3 separate regions of the Homo sapiens genome follow, and regions 1 and 2 are each linked to region 3. The links come from fine-mapping of genetic effects on gene expression. A gene starts in region 3. Each other region holds a variant in brackets. All regions are shown on one strand. Distances are from middle to middle. Region 1 overlaps ATP8A2 (ATPase phospholipid transporting 8A2). Region 2 overlaps ATP8A2 (ATPase phospholipid transporting 8A2). Region 3 holds the start of ATP8A2 (ATPase phospholipid transporting 8A2).

The links. PIP is the estimated chance that this variant, and not a neighbour inherited with it, causes the effect. A credible set is the group of variants that fine-mapping cannot tell apart.
Region 1: its variant is the best candidate, but not a certain one, in a credible set for the expression of ATP8A2 in nasal epithelium (TOPMed, PIP 0.71).
Region 2: its variant is the best candidate, but not a certain one, in a credible set for the expression of ATP8A2 in whole blood (TOPMed, PIP 0.62).

Annotation. Positions count from the first base shown.
Region 1 is chr13:25,996,145-26,001,875 of GRCh38, forward strand. All of the region lies in intron 35 of ATP8A2 (ATPase phospholipid transporting 8A2), which reads left to right. Among named protein-coding and RNA genes, the nearest start is that of SHISA2, 53 kb to the right of the region's middle. The variant T/C (reference allele first, on the strand shown) is at 2,774.
Region 2 is chr13:25,716,920-25,722,650 of GRCh38, forward strand. The region is part of intron 25 of ATP8A2 (ATPase phospholipid transporting 8A2); the gene reads left to right. Among named protein-coding and RNA genes, the nearest start is that of SHISA2, 330 kb to the right of the region's middle. The variant G/C (reference allele first, on the strand shown) is at 2,539.
Region 3 is chr13:25,369,078-25,374,808 of GRCh38, forward strand. It overlaps ATP8A2 (ATPase phospholipid transporting 8A2), which reads left to right and starts at 2,897. Exons shown (of 37, transcript NM_016529.6): 1 at 2,897-3,211. The coding sequence starts at 3,136.

The DNA of each region.
Region 1 (5,731 bases), 630 kb after region 3:
TATCTGCCTATATCATTATATTTGAAGCTAGCTTCTAAAAGGCAGTATGTAATTGGCTCATGTTTTTAAATTCACCATGTCATTCTGTATCTTTTAATTGGCATATTTATACCATTTATATTTAATTTATTGCTGATATGTTGGGGCATATGTCTGCCATTTTACCTTTTTGAGCCATCACACCTAGCTCTACATACATTTAAAACCATATCAGACCATGTATAATTTTCACTTTAACTCATCAAACATAATTTGGAGAAATCAAGAGCAAAAGAAAAGCTTCTTGTATTTACTCATATTTTGCTTACTATATTCTTTCTTTTTTATGTTCCAAGATTTCTTCTTTTATCATTTCCTTTTTGTTTATAGAACTTTCTTATTATTATTTTTTATTTTTTGAGATGGAGTCTTACTCTGTTGCCCAGGCTAGAGTGTGGCGGTGTGATCTCAGCTCACTGCAACCTCCGCACTCTGGCGTTCAAGCAATTCTCCTGCCTCAGCCTCCTAAGTAGCTGGTATTACAGGTGTGCACCACCATGCCTGGCTAATTTTTTTTTGAGACGGAGTCTCACTCTGTTGCCCAGGCTGGAGTGCAGTGGCACAATCTCAGCTCACCGCAACCTCTACCTCCTGGGTTCAAGCATTTCTTCTGCCTCAGCCTCCCAAGTAGCTGGGATTATAGGCACCTGCCAACACACCTGGCTAATTTTTGTATTTTTAGTAGAGACAAGGTTTCACCACATTAGCCAGGCTGGTCTCGAACTCCTGACCTCAGATGATCCTCCCACCTCGGCCTCCCAAAATGCTGGGATTACAGGCGTGAGCCACCATGCCCAGCCCATCTTTGTATTTTTAGTAGAGACAGGGTTTCACCATGTTGGCCAGACTGTTCTTGAACTCCTGACCTCAAGTGATCCTCCTGCCTTGGCCTCCCAAAGTGCTGGGATTACAGGTGTGAGCCACCGTGCCCCCACCTTATAGGACTTTCTTTAGCTATTCCTGTAAGATCGTTCTGGTGGTGACAAATTTTCTTAGTTTTCCTTCCATTCAAGAGATTTCTTTTTCATTCCTGAAAGATATTTTCACTGGGTTGACAGTTCTGTTCTTTCAGCACCTGAAAAATGTTGTGCCAGTTGCTCTGGCCTCAGTGGTTTCTGATGAGAAATCCACTGTCAACCTACGTGGTTTTCCTCTATTGGTGTCATTTCTCTTTGGCTGCCTTTGGAATCTTTGTCGTTGGTTTTTGGCAGTGTAATTAAAATCTGTCTTGTTGTGGATTTCTTTGAGTTTATCCTCTTTAGAATTGCTCTGTAAGTTTATATTGTTCATCAAAATTGGGACATTTTCAGCCACTATTTCTGAGTGCTCTTTTAGCCCTGCCGTATTTCTCCTCTTTTTCTGAGACTCTGAAGACGTGAATGTTAGATCTTCTATTATATTCTTACAGGCTCCCAAGGCTCTGTTAATTTTTATAGTCTATTTTGTCTCTATTACTCAGACTGGGTAATTTCTACTGTTCTATTTTTCAGTTCACTAACGATTTCCTCTGTCCCCTGCATTCTGCTGTTGAGCCCATCCACTGAGGTTTTTATTTCAGTTGTTATATTTTTCCGTTCTGAAATTTCCTATTTGTTCTTTTAAGTCTTATATTTCTTGGCTGCGGCTTTCTATTTTTTTTCTTTTAAGTGTGTTCATAATTACTTATTGAAACATTTTTACCATGGCTACTTTAAAATCTTTGTCAGACAATTCCACTGTTTCTGACGTCTTGGTGTTAGCATCTATTGATCATTTTTATTTTTCTCCCTGTTTGAGATCTTCCTGGTTTATGGTAAAATAAGTGATTTTCAAATGAAACCTGGACATTTTGGCTATTATGCTATGGACTCTGGATTTCATGGCAGCCTGGCTCCTGCCGGGTAGAGGTAATCCAGATTCACTAATGGCCTCTGTTTATGTCTTCAGGGTAGGGATGGGAGCTCCTGCTCTCCAGGTGCAGGGGTCCTGATTCTCCATAAGACCTTTTCTGACATCACCCAGTGAAGAGGGAAAAGGATGCCTTCACATTTCACTGGGTTGGGGATGGAAGTCTAGTCATCCGAAGTGATCTCTGCTGACATCCCAGAAGGGAGGGGTCCTTATTGGCTGGCAGGGATGAAAGTCAAGGATCCCTGCTTGGTCTTCTTTTTCACCTCCCCATAAGGGTGTTGGAGAGCCTCATAACAGTCTCCTAAGGGAAGAAGTCTAAGAGCACCACTAGGTCTTTGCTGGCATGGGTTGGGGGTGAGGGGGCCACCTTTTTCTCTGGGGTATCTGGCTGCAGATGAGTACTTCAGGCCTGAAAGTTTTCTGTCTTGCTAGGCTGCCCCTTTCCTGTTCCTTTGTCTGGAGAGAAAAGGCATTTGCTAGGTAGGCTTCTTTGTTCATGCCTGTGGACATTCAGAATCGTCCTCTGCCTCTACTGGGAAAACCTTGTCTGGGACAGAGGAAATCAAGCACTGTGCTGCTACAAGCCTCTCTTCTCTCCAGTGCCCAGTTTTTATTATTAGAGGAAAGTTGGGTCCAGGGAGGACTGGAGGAATCTGTTGTTTATTTTTGGAACGGAATTTGTATTAGGGTTAGTTAACCTTGAACCCTATGGTGTCTTCAGCCAGAATGTCCCCCAAACTGTCCCATGTAACCTGAATTCTTAAAAAATTACAATGTTTCATCTCTATAAATCCACAAACACTGCTCACAATATCTTCTGGAATTTGGAGTGAGCTTTTCTCTC[T/C]GGAAGAGAATAGGGACAATGTCCATATTCTGGCATTTTAAAAGAATAATACAGAGGAATTTACCTTGGCCACTATTGGAAAACCTACTGTGTCCTGAGCTCAATGCTGGGCGTTATGGATAGACACGAGACAAATGGTGAAGGATTGAGTTGTGGAGACACAACATAAGAAGAGAGTCGCACCACAAATCAGTTAATACAAAGCACACATGCAATTTTACATATTGAACCGTGTCCTCTGTTTTCAGCCCAGGATAGGTACTGTGAAAAACATAACAAAAAGTGTAAGACTTGGTTCCGGCTGAATGAACCCTCTAGTTGAACACACAGATGGTGTGCTGGTGTTTTCCAGGGATCACTAGGCACAGTGCTGCTTCTCAGTCTACCAGCTCTCCATGGGTTTCTACAAGCTGAGTCCAAAGTTGCATCTCAGCTTTGACCTCTCTCTGGTCCCCTGTCTTCTGAACACCTCAGAGGCGCTCACAGGCCCCACATCTGAAACTGGATTCATTGCTGTTCCTGCTGAACCTTTTTCTCCTCCTGTGTTTGCATCTGGATGGTCAGCAAAGGGCCATCCATTGTTCAGGACCCAGCTTCAGTGCTGATTCTCTCTGCCCTGCTCCAAGTTCTTCACTCCTCCACGTCACCTCTCCTGAGCCTAGCACAATCTCTGTAAGGGCATCATCACCTTATAGCATGGTAAGTGTCTGCACGGCGAGGTCACCTTAAAGACTGTGAGTTCATGAGGGCAGAGGCTGTGTCTTGGGTAACTTTGTTTCCAACATTGGGTCTCACACACAGTAGGCGCAGTACAAATGCTGAATTAATGGGAGGTCAAGAGGTCATGTTTTTAAAAAGAAGATGCATATGGATTGGCAGAAAGGGGAAAGGAGAATCATCTACTACCATCTAACAGAATGGAATTTCTGGAGGGCTCGTAGTTCCGTGGTATATAAAATAAATATAACTCTTATTGAAGTTTTAGGCTGGAAAACCGATTTTGTTTTTGTTTTATTCTTGTGATTTTCCTTCATTACATAAGTGTCTTTAACTAAGGTAAAGTTTTAGATAAAACAAAGGTCTAGGTAGGTCTGGAATACACTTGAGCCCCGAAGGTTTTCATTTCCTAATGATAATGAGTAAAATAAGTTGCCAATTGTGGCTATGAAATATCATTCTCTAATAAAGCAGGTTAGAATGTTAACAGCCTGGTGGATTGGTAGATGTTTGGCCTTCCCTGAAGGACAGGGAACTGGGGACCAGCTTTTTTTCTTGAGGGCCTGTCACATCTGTGTTTTGCAGACTGCCCAGTAGCTAATTTAAAAATAAGTTTCTAAAATTACCTACTTGTTTTTGGCTTTGTTGTAGTGTCAGCTGTGATTCCGGTCAGTTGTAACTATTGACAAGATCTAAAATTCAGATTTGGAGTTATTTGCTGTGTACTCCACACTCCCGCTCTTTGGCAGTTATGCATGTGTGATTTTTGCAGGAATAGCTTTCTAACAGAAATGTGGACACAAGAGTTTATTTTTCTCCATCATAACTCAGCTCTCCACTTCTTCCTGAGACTGATCATTTTTTGAGGCAGGAGCATAACACCTTCTCTAGGATTTGTCAGCTTCTAAAAAGAGCCTTTTGTAAGGACTTGTATGAGCTTGGGTTTCACCATCATTACTGGGGAGGCACTAAGACTGCACATATCTCTGGGTGAAGTAATGTCTACACAACACCTTTCATAGCAATAGTTCCCAGCTAGCATACCTGCTTCTGCCAGTACAGAGCCAAAAAAAAAAAAAAAAAAATTAAGTACTTTAATGCCAATACCCCCCACCATGGGAAAAATAAACTGTAAAAATGGCATCATTACCAACAGCTCATGTGATAGGAGGGAACTGACCTTGATTTGGCACCCAATCCACCTTTTTTTAATTCAATTTTCTTTCTCAAAAAAATGTGATAAAATGCACATAGCATAACATTTACTATTTTATAGTTTGCCATACATGGCAGTTGGTAGAGTCACAGTGTTGTATAACCATTACCACTACCTAGTTCCAGAATATTTTCATCTCCCCAAAAGGGAACCCCATATGTGTGACGCAGTCCTTCCCACTTCCTTTCCCCCACCTCCCTGCCCTACAGCCCCTGGCAAACACGAGCCTGTTTTCAGTCTTTACATATTTGCCTATTTTGGACATTTCATATAATCATGTAATACACAGCCTTTGAGGTTGGGCTTCTTTCACTTAGCATAATATTTTCAGTCTTTATCCCTGAAGTATGTATCCATCTGTACCATATTTCTTTATATGGCTGAATAATTCTCCATTGTATGCATAGACCACATTTGCTTACACATTTGTCAGTTGGTGGACATTTGGGTCGTTTCTACTTTTGGCTTTTGTGAATAACGCAGCTAGGGATATTGTACTGGTATCTGTCTGAGTCCATTTTCCATTCATTTGGGTATATTCTTAGGAATGGAATTGGTGAGTGATGAGATAATTCTGTGTCTAACTTACCAAGGAACAGTGGCTGCACCATTTTACATCTCACCAAGTAATGTGCAAGAGTTCCAGTTTCTCCATATCCTCTCCAACACTTATTTTCTGAGTTATTTTGGTTTTGGGGTTTTTTTAATAGCCATCCTAGTATGTGTGAAGTGCTATCTCATGGTAGTTTTGATTTGCATTTCCCTAATGACTAATGATACTGATTATCTTCATGTGCTTTTTGGCTATTGTGTATTTTCTTTGAATAAGGGTCTATTGAAGTCCTTTGCCCATTTTTTAATCAAGTTGTTTGTTTTTTTGCTTTTGAGTTGTAGGTGTTCTTTATATATTCTGGATACTAGACCTTTATCAGATATGATTTGCAAATATTTTCTCCCATTTTGTAGTTGTCTTTTCATTTCCTTGATAATGACCTTTGATGCACAAAAGTTTTTAATTTCCATGA
Region 2 (5,731 bases), 350 kb after region 3:
TATAAAGCATGAATTGCTTATTTAGTTTTTTCCTTTAATTTCAAAGGGCCAAACATACCGACTCAGAGGCAGGTTGGCTAGAGTGGAGTTAGGAAAATACTCTTTCTGGAAAGAAAGGTGACTTTAATCATTGCTGCCTATACATGCCACTATCACCAGTGAGTCTTCACTTAATGTGCATATCCACCTGCTGGCAGCATTGCCAGAGTGACTGTCTGAAAGAATGGCCGCTTGTTCATTCGTTCATTCATTCATCAGATTATGGTAGCATGGATTACAGAGGTGAAGAGAAATGAAGAGATTTGAGGGTGGTCTAGATGTAAAATTGGGAGGATTTGTAGTCACATATGAAAGGTAATAGTAAGGAAGAAGGAGCTATTGAGAATGGGATCAGGGATTTGGGATTTTGGTAGTTATGATAGCCATTGAGTGCTGAGAATGGGTTAGGCTCTCTATTGAGCTCTGTCCAGGCATTATTCCATATGATCCTGAAAAAACTAAAAAAAAAAAAAAAAAACACCAAGGTAGGCACTACCACTACCAGCAGCAGCAGACAAAACCAAAGCTTAGGGGAGGTCAAGTCACTTACCCTAGATCACAAAACTATGAAACTGGGTAAGTGGTGGTGCCATGTGCTACTTTAATGTACTTCTTTTACTTTGTTGAGCTCTTCTTTTCAAAAAGCATCTAAAGATTGAATGAAGAAATATACAACAATTCTAACTAAATGTTTAATGAAGAAATTTTGAAGGGAAAAAATAGACCAAAACCACTTTCTTATAATCTCACCGACTGTGTATAATGAATGGCTGTCCTTTGGTGGATATGTTTCCTTTTCGAGAGATCAACCCTCATCTGAATGCCTCCCTCAGTATAGCTGCTGCTGGTCTTGTAGTATGTGCTTGGTTGTGCAGTTCCTGTGGTCTGGCATGTACCTAATGCACACAGATTGGATTGAAGATTGAAGTTAACCTCGCTTATCGATGGCATTTTAATTTCCTTCCTCTTACTACATTATGTGTTTTTTATGATAGTGCTTTAAAGTCCAGGCTTATAAGGAAAAGGAAACAATCTCCTATGCAAGTCCCCAGGGTTTCAGTGAAGCAGATGGCAGGAAGGGTCTGGGCATGGTGTGTGTTGCCTGTTTCAAAATTATGTCCCATGCACCCCAGCATTTATTCCCTTGATGTTGGCACTGGGCAGGTGATCAGATTTTAATTTGTGTGGCGTGGTGGCCTTTTAGAGTAGGATAATAACATTGGGAAAATTAGGTTAAGATCAATTTGTCATTTATTTTGTCGTAATAAAATAGAGTAAATCTTTCAAAACAGATTTACGTAAGTTCCTTGAATTGGAGGAAGCCTCAAATCTAAAACTTCATTAAGCAACATCTTAATATCACAGAGACTCGGGGTCAGAAAAAATTTAAATGACATATAAATTAGTAGAGTTTTTCGTTTGCTATTCATTTTTTTTCCCGTTTTATTGCCCTGGTATTCTGAGTCTCTTGGTTCATTCTTACGTGTGTATCATTTTGGTTTGGGTTATGAGTGCTCACTGGCATACTGGTATACAACACTGAGAGCCAGTAGGCTGTTATTTTGCTGCCATTCTATTGTGTCTAGAGAAGTATCCAGGGAGAGGGTTGTTTGTTTTTACTTGATGAGGTGCAGAAGTTGGGACTGTACTGAAAAACAGAATGCTAAAGAGCCAGCTCCAATCTAGGAAACATCCTCCAAGAGCACCCCCTGAGACAGAGTGTGAATCACAGAAAGGAAATTAGATTTTTTTAGCCCCAAATAAGAAAGATTAAAACACCAGTAAATTGTTTTACATTGATTTTACTAAGGTTAGTTAGAAGTAAAGGCTTACAAACACGTACTGTTTATTTAGTGATAGATGAAACTTAGAGGCGTTTCTTCTGTTGTAATTGGTTGGCTCTTTGCATTGATTAGAACTAGGTAGACAAGTTGGTACAAAAATGGCAGGAGTGGAAGGGAATGGGCCCCTGTTGATGTGTAAGAACATACGCGTGCATGTGGGGACACCAGTGGCATTTTCTGCATGTTTCGGGGTTTCAGAAGACTTGCCTTGTTCTGCACCTCTAAATTAGACCTACTGTGAAAAACTTACAGGTCAGTTTCTGGGAGTGCTTTTCTTCCTGGACTTTCCCAGGTGAGCACTTAGATCCTGTGAATCCATCTCCGTGTCGGAAACTTCCGTGATCCGGCTCTATGCTTTAATTTTGAATGTCTTGCTATTTCATTTCTTTGAAAATAAAGCAGTTCCACAACATTACAGCCCTGTGCTGTCTACTCATTCTCCTTTGGGGATTGCTTGTTTTAATTGATTGATTCACAGAGGAGAAAGAAAAACAATTTGTTGCTTTGGCAAGATTGGTTTTTCTAAGGATGCTACTGTCTTGCTGGGTCTATGTGGCAGTTAGTAAGAGAAGCTGGCTTAGCAGTTCTGAGGCTGACATGAACATTGCTTCTTAAATTGAAAGGTTGGGTGGGTGGATGGGTGGATGGGTGGATG[G/C]GTGGATGGGTGGATGGATGGATGGATGGATGGATGGATGATGGAGATAGATAAGATAGATAGATACTTGCAGCAAGCATTCCCAGAACATTTGTTACTCACCTCACTAAAATTAAGCTGTTGTTATTTTGAGATGAGATGGCAGATAAGGTAGATTCAATCATTTAACATCCATTCCAATCTCCCGTCTGTGTCTTTTCCTGTCCTGCTGATACTAGAAAGCTGAAAAATCATCCCCTGGCAGCAAGGGTTCTGAAAATGACTAGCCTGTCAGAATCACTTATGTAAGACTTGAACACAGAGCAGAATTAAGTGGGTAGAGGGATGGTGTGGTCCAGACATCAGCTTGCTGGCCTGACTGGCAGGCGAGCTGTGCCCAGAGCTGGCATCGCTGTGGGGCCCCCATGGTGGCCCCTGTAGCCCATGCTTGGAGGCAATGTAAGGATGGGGCTCTGGTGGGGCCTCTGGTGGCTCCTGTGTCCTGTGCTTGGAGACAGTGGTATGAGGACAGGTTTCCTCATGTAGCATCCCCTCTGTGCTGGTGTCTGGGTCTTGGGGGTCATCCTGGAGGCACAGCTCAGAGGCTATTCTTCAAGTCTCTCTCCTGATTTTATAAGCTCCGAATTCTTGTATAAAGTTACCTTCTAGTTAAAATACCCAGCATGATTTCTGTTATCTGCACATGACCTCCGATAAATGTATACTTTTTCTTTTTTTTTTTTTTTTTTGAGAAGGAATCTCACTCTGTCGCCCAGGCTGGACTGCAGTGGTGCAATCTCGGCTCACTGCAAGCTCCACCTCCCAGGTTCATGCCATTCTCCTGCCTCAGCCTGTAGCTGGGACTACAGGTGCCCACCACCATGCCAGGCTAATTTTTTATATTTTTAGTAGAGACGGGGTTTCACCGTGTTCACCAGGATGGTCTCAATCTCCTGACCTTGTGATCCGCCTGCCTCGGCCTCCCAAAGTGCTGGGATTACAGGCATGAGCCACTGCGCCTGGCCACATGACCTCTGATAAATGTATACTTCTATGGGACAAATTTTCAGAGTTGGCAAAGAAAATAGGTTCATCTTTATGGACCTTGGGATCTCCGTGTGAAACTCTCACCTTCCCTCAGGTCGTCCACTCATCTCACACGTGGCCTCTTCCCTTACACAGGAAGGCAACTCTGGGACGTTTGCTGATGATGGCTCATCGTGCCCACCCCTCAGGTGTGAAACCTCAGAACCATGTGCATTTCTCCTCATCCTCGTCCCCTTTAACCATTCTCCAGTTCTTACTTCCTGATGCTTGCTTCTTTTGAGTCTAACTTTTCATTCAGCCTTCAGCAATCCCTGTGCTACGACAGCCTCTGCTAAGAACTTCATGCAACTTGTCTTATTATAGCCTCATAAAAACCCTGTGGGAGGAAGGTTAGATGCCATGTCCCAAGGCTGAACGTAGTGCTGGACTGGGCAGAGAGGCCTCAGCTCTGACTGGTCTGAGCTGTGGGAGCTTTAGCTTTTTTTTTTTTTTTTTTTCCTGACACAGAGTCTTACTCTGTCATCCAGGCTGGAGTGCAGTGATGCAATCTGTACCTCGAACTCCTAGGCTCAAGTGATCCTCCCACCTCAGCCTCCCGAATAGCTGTGGCTACAGGCTCATGCCACCACAAATGGCTCATTATTATTATTATTATTATTTGGTAGGGATAAGGGTCTTGCTGTGTTTCTCAGGTTGGTCTCAAACTCCTGACTTCAAGTGAGCTTTTTTTTTTTTCAATAACAGTTTTGTTGAGTTACAGTCCATATACTAAATAACTCAGCCACTTAGATGTACAGTTCAGTGGTTTTTAATATAGTCACAGATATGAACAGCCATCATCACACTAAATTAAGGAACATTTTCATCACCTCTAGGAGAAAGCTTGTGTTTGTCTGTTTTTGCTTTGGTTGCCTGACTCTGAGGTCTTACTCAAAAATCTTTGCCCAGACCAGTGTCCTGAAGCATTTCCCCAATGTTTTCTTCCAGCAGTTTCACAGTTTCAGGTTTAACATTTACATCTTTAATCCATTTTGACTTGAATGCTGAGAGATAGGCCCGAGTATGTACAGCTGTTATGTATCAGGTTTTTAAAACAGGTAACCTGGTACACTTGAACAGCCCTAGCCCCCTGCCCTAAGCAGCCACTTACCTACTTCCCATTTCTATAGATTTGCTTGTCCTTCCCATTTCTTGTAAATGGAATCATACATCATGCAGTCTTGCATGTGTCTGTCTTCTTCCACTTACGACAGTGTTTTCAAGGTTCATCCACATCCATGTATGTGTGCTTCATTCTGTTGTATGATTGAATAATATTCCATTGTATGGATATACCACATTTTGTTTATCCATTCATCAGTTGATGGACATTTAGGCTATTTCCACCTTTTATTGTCTATGATAAATAATGCTGCTATGAACACGCATGTACAAGTTTTTGCAAGGATATGTGTTTTCATTTTTTCCTGGGTATATGCCCAGGAGTGAAATCACTGGCTGAATGGTAACTGTATGTTTAACCTCTTGAGGAACCATGAAACTGTTTTCCCCAGTGGCTGCCTTATTTTACACTCTCACCAGCAGTGTGGAAAGGTTCTAATTCCTCTACATCCTTGCCAATGCTGGTATGTGACTTTTTGATATTATGTGATGTCATGTGACTTCTCGCTTATAGCCATCCTAGTGGGTATGCAGTGGTATCTCAGTGTGGGAGCCGTGGCTCTGAACCCCATTGCAGTAATACCCTCTGCTCCTTAGTAGCCTCCTCAGTTCAATTTCCCCTTCTTCCTTGATGGCAGTAGCTGATCCCTTTTGTTTCCAGGGCCTTCATCAATAGATTGCTACCTAAGAGGGTTACTAAAGTACTGTTTGGTCCCAAGACTTCCTTGAACAAGGCCATCAGGAAGTTCCCCATTCCCTATAGGGTGCTGCCTGCATTTTGCTGGGGTTACAGGTACCCCATTATTGGCCTCAGCCTTGCATTCTGCTTTTCTCTCAGGCAGACTTTCTGACCAATGAGACTGGTATATGTTTTGCATCCTGTACATGCTATGTATTTTGACACTTCTCTTTCTTGATCCCCTTTCTACCCATATCATCCAGAAGGGACTTTGGTGCTGCTACAGAATTTATTATTAGTAACACACACTTGGCACTAATTCATTGC
Region 3 (5,731 bases):
AAAGGGCTGCTCTGGCTTAGTTAAGTTCAATGACACTCATCGACCCACAGTGCTAGGGACTTGGTGTGGCTCCTACTGGGGGCTGCAGGCTGCCTTTCTACCTGTCTTGTGAACGCGTAGGGTCGTGGCTCTAAGAATTGAGGCAAACTCTCTTTGTTGAGGAGTTCTTGCTTTCACAGACAGAGCACATTTCCCTGACTGTCCTGGTTGCGGTGCCTTTTGCGTTTGCTGTTTCTCCTCACAGGCTTCTTTATCTCCTTTGGTTCTAACCTAGGCTGCCTCTGGCAAGGGTGAAAGGATGTCTCCAAGCCAAGCCTGGGTCACAGGGTGATCCACATCGGCACTGGATTCTAAGCATAATAATAAATACTGTCCATTTGCTAGCTTTTGTCCTTTGTGCATATATTTCCCTTGAAGACCTCAGAGATGGGATTTAGGTCTGACTCTGGCCAATGCCAACCTACTGATCTCCCCAACATTCCAAGAGGCAGTCAGATCAGGGGAATTAACCAAGACATCAAAGAGACAACACAAGTTGCTGTGAAATATTCACCTACTGCTCCTTGCAGTCTATGCTGTGATCTTCAAGGTGCACCAACTGAGGTATATTTCACACACCTACAAAGCTGTCAGGGCAGTTTGGTTATTGGAAGATAAACATAGAAAGAGCAGCAACAACTCTGTTTCATGATGGGGCTGCACAAAGTCAGGGTGGGACATTTGGTCACTCTTCAGTGATCAAGGCAAATATTCTATATATAACATACTCTGCTTCTTAAAAATTAAAAATAACCTTTATCTACTCTTTCTATTCCCACCTAAGTCAGAGCAAAAAAACCCAAAATGTTTTCTATTTATCTTGAAGTTTGGGGATTGAAAAAAACCACATTTTCCTTTTAAGTTCCTTTCAATTCTGGTTAGGTCCTCAAGGTGTTATCATAGACAGAAGATTTACTGAAGCATAGTGACAAGTTTTTGACAAATCCAGTCCTAGGATTAGCCCCAGCTTTAAGATTTATCCTCAGCAGCAATGAAGATCCACTGAGAAAACCTCTCCCACTCTGAAGCTTAGCTCAACAATTTAGAAAATTTTATTTTGATTCATCTTCCTGATAAAGATTCATTTCTTATCAGAAAAATTTTTTGAGGGCCCAGAAGAGACAGGTAAAGAATCCTACCTGAAGCTACATTTAGTGTAGATTCTTGCCAGCCTGCAGTTTTCAGTGTAAGTTGCCTGTCCCTTTGGATGTTGTTTTTTGTTTTGTCTTGTTTTGTTTTTGGTGGAGTCTTACTCTGGCACCCAGGCTGGAGTGCAGTGACATGATTTCCGCTCACTGCAACCTCCACCTCCTGGGTTCAAGCGATTCTCCTGCCTCAGCCTCCCGAGTAGCTGGGACTACAGGCACCTGCCACCACACCCGGCGATTTTTTTTTTGTATTTTTAGTAGAGACGGGGTTTCACCGCGGTAGCCAGGATGGTCTCCATCTCCTGACCTCATGATCTGACCGCCTTTGCCTCCCAAAGTGCTGGGATTACAGGCGTGAGCCACCACGCGCGGCCTGGATGTTTGTTCTTAAGAAAATTAGAAGCAGAGGCCGGGGGTGGTGGCTCACGCTTGTAATCCCAGCACTTTGGGAGGCCGAGGCAGGTGGATCGCCTGAGGTCAGGAGTTCGAGACCAGCTTGGCCAACTTAGTGAAACCCCGTCTCTACTAAAAATACAAAAATTAGCTGGGCGTGGTGGTGGGCGCCTGTAATCCCAGCTACTCGGGAGGCTGAGACACAAGAATCACTTGAACCCGGGCGACGGAGGTTGCAGTGGGCCGAGATAGCGCCATTGCACTCCAGCCTGGGCAACAAGAGCAAAACTCTGTCAAAGAAAAAAAAAAAGTAAAAGAAAATAAAATCAGATGCAGAGGCCAGGCAGGAGGAGCTCAGGCCGCACTGCTGTCTTTGCTAGCACAGATTCTTTTTGCTGAACTCTGTACTACTCCTTGTCAGTCCCTAATGTTAATTTAGGTTAAAAGAAATGTAATGCTCGCATCAGTAAAAGCAAGGTCAGACTTTCACCTGAACAGTTTTATTTTTGTTTTGTTCCGTTTTTACTCCGAGGTCAGAATGTCATCAGGCACAATAAAGATAGCTTCTTATCTTCATGGGATTGTGCCCAGAAAGACCAAGCACAGTCTAAACATTACGCGATAAGAAAAAACAAAAAATAGATCAAGTGACCTTGGACAAGTCATCTTACCTCTCGATGGTTTTGTTTTATGAAAGAAGGTGTGTGTGTGTGTGTGTCGATGGGTGTGTGTGTGTGTGTGTCGATGGGTCTGTGTGTGTGTGTGTGTGTGTCGATGGGTGTGTGTGTGTGTGTGTGTGCGTGCGGGGGTTGAGAAGGTTGCTGTTAAGGTTCCCTAGGGCTACCTGCAGCTTTAATATGCGTAGTTAGAATGTCAGGCAGGTTGTGGAGAGTGGGGGGCTGGAGACCCCCGACTTCTCTGAGTGCCAAGCCACACATCAGACACCTTGGAAATAACCCTTCCACGAAGTCCCTACACAGATCCCACCAGGCTGGGCACGGAAGAACAGAAACTGCGAAAAGAAAGGGACTGGATGAGTCCTGGGGAATCACAGCGCCTCCACTTGCACAGGACAAGTGACAGGCAGGTAAATAGGTAGCAGACAGGCAGAGACTCCGAGTCCCCCAGGTGCACCCCTCTCCTGGAAGAGCCCCCGAAAGTACAGGCCCAATCTCCCACCCCACCAAGCCCTCCCCATCGCCTTCCCCGACACCTAAAAGCCCCGGTCCTGCGTAATATTGCGGATCCCTCCCAGCCTCCCGTCCGCTCCTCCTCCCGCGGGGCTCCGCTCAGGGCCGGTCCCCCGCCCCCACGCCGCAGCCCGGGCCAGCGGGGCCCGCCGCGGTGGCGTTCGCGGATGCTGCCGCATTGGCCGCTGCGGCACGGACGGCGCAGCCTCGGGCGCGGCCCGGCACAGGCGCCGGCGGTCCCCGCCAGCTAGCAGCCCGGCGAGGCGCTGGCCCACCCATGGTCCTCGGGCGGCGGCCCCTGCGCCCAGCCCTGCGCGTAGCCTCCGTCTCTCGCCCGGGGCCGCCGAGCCCCCGACACGGGCGAGATGCTGAACGGCGCAGGCCTGGACAAAGCTCTTAAGATGTCCCTGCCGCGGAGGTCGAGGATCCGCTCGTCCGTGGGTGAGCTGGGAGGGGCGCGGCGAGGGAGGGTGGGCCCGGGGCGGGGGCGGCGCGGGGCGCGCCTGCGGTTATGCGACACTGCCCCGCCCGCGCCCCGCTCCCCTCCCTGGGCTCCCTGGGCTCTCTGGGCTGCAGGATCCGCCGACGCGGCGCGCTGGCCGCACGGGGGCTGGGCGTCGCTGCACCTGCGGGGCCAAAAGGCTCCAGGCCGGGGCGAGGTGAGCGGCGGGCGTCAGAGACCCCCGGCTCGTCCCTGTACAGATGTGTGTGTGTGTGTGCGGCCTCCCTGTGCGCGTGCCCGTGCGCCCCTACGCGCGGATGCGGCTCAGGGATGCGACCTAGGCGGCAGTCACCGCGATGGTGGGCACGGTTTGGCGGCGCAGAGAAGATGCAGCCTTCCCTGCCGGCGGCCGGCACCGCTGTGCTGCAGAGCTCAAAAGCAGAGGGGGAAAAAGGCATCCGAAGGGTCCCTCGAGTGATTCTCACCACTTGGAGCCCCGGGTCCTCGCGCGCTCACAGCGGCGACGTACTGGCTCATAACCATCCGTGCATACAACCATCTGGAGACGAACACACACACGCACACGCGCGCGCACACACACACACAGGTACACACACACGTACACACGCACGCGTACACATACCCTGCCTGCAGGCGCCTGGGTGTTGGAACTCGAAACCTAAAGCCAAACACGCATGTACCATACCCGACCACTCACACTGTTAGAGGCCCGCGTTCTATGATTATAGAACACATTTAGAAACTATGATGTCGTGGAGCTGGATGTTATGTGGCTATGACACTTGATAGGGTTACCTAGACCATTAGTTAATGCAGACGTAAAGAGGAGCCCCAAAAATGATTTCTTACCGTTTCAGGACTGCGGCAAGTTTGCAGGTAGATCTTTGACATGAGGAAGGTAGAGGGTGTACAGTTTGGAGCTGGGGTCACTTGTCTTCGTGCTTTTTTATTTGTTTTGAGAAAATAGGCACATAAAAATAAGCGACTTTTGTATTTCTGTAGTTGAGTAACGTGAGAGGGAAGCAAGCTTATCAGGTAATTTAAGCCAATGTTTGTTAAACTTGGGTAAAGTCAGGACACTTTCACATTCATTTTGAGGAGAATCCCAGCCTGAAGGGGTCACGGGGTGCAGGGTCAAGACTAAATAGCAGGGAAGAGCTGTGGCAGAGAGACAGTGGGAGGGCGCAGTCATACAGGTGTGAGAATTTCCCAAGGTGGAGGCAGCCTGAGGAGACCTGGGGACACCCTCTGTACCTTTGCAGGTGGGGCCAAAGGCATTTGCTTATGATTTGGATGTGGGGCTTCAGTACAAGAAAAGAATCAAAGATGCCCCCAAGGGTTTTGGTCTGAGACACCGGAAGAATGCACCCCTTGCTGAGATGGGGAAACTGCGGAGGACCAGGGTTCTCTTTTGCGGTAAGGGAGGGTGTGAAGAATTTGGTCTGAAATGCCTACCATAGATCCAAGAGGAGATGATTAGTAGAGAGCTGGATTTATGAGTCTGGGGCTCCGGGGAGTGTGCAAGGCCAGACATAGAGATTCAAGAGTCGTCGGCAGGACCGGCTCCAAGAGTGTATGCCCTGCAGCTGCTCAGAGTCTGGCTCTTACAAGAGTCAGCACTTGCTTGGATGTTCTGCCCAGTGTTGCTGTCTTGAAAGTCTTAATTTTTGAACAAGGGGCCCACCTTTTCATTTTACACGGGCCCCTAAGAATTATGTGATCAGCTGTCAATGTGTACAGATGTGACTTAGAAAAGAGGGGTCCTTGGATAGAGTCCTGGGCACTCTAACATTTTGAGGTTAGGGAGATGAGGGTCAACAGAAGGGGCCTGAGAGGATGGCCAGGGAGGTCCCCGGAAACCCGGAGGGAGTGCTCTGAAACTCAGTGTGGAGATGTTCAGGAAGGGGTGGGGTGTACCTGTGCCCAGTGCTGCTGAGCTCAATAAAGATGAGGCTGGAGAACTGTCATGTAAGTGGAGGTCACTGGTGATCTTGAAAAGAGCTGTTAACATATCATTGTGGGGAAGAACGCCTAATAGAGCAGGTGTAAGAGTAACAGGACAGGAACTGGAAACAGCAAGTCCGGAAAACTCTTTTGAGTGAATATTGCAGAAAAGGCAGGGGGAGAAGCAGATCGAGTGGTAGCTGGAGGAAAATGTGAGTTCAAGAGAGGTCGCTTTGTTTTGAGACTGTTCTACAGTCTGACGGCATGAACATCAACGCAGGAAGCTTTTAGGGAGCAGGGGGGAAGGCAGTGATCTGAGAGTAACCGTGAGAAGCAGGGTCCTCCTGGCAGAGCAGTTAAGGCAAGAAGTTTCAGGAATAGTCAGAGGGGTCGGGTTGTGAGGGATCTTGCTGATGATAGGCTGAAAGTTCCAGGAGACAGAGTGGAGGCTCTGAGATGGGGCCTGTTTAGGGTATTTGCATAATGTATGGAGAAGAAAGAGGATCTGCATAGTGTGGGCTCCTGGGGACACTGATGGAAACAGGGGCAGAGGG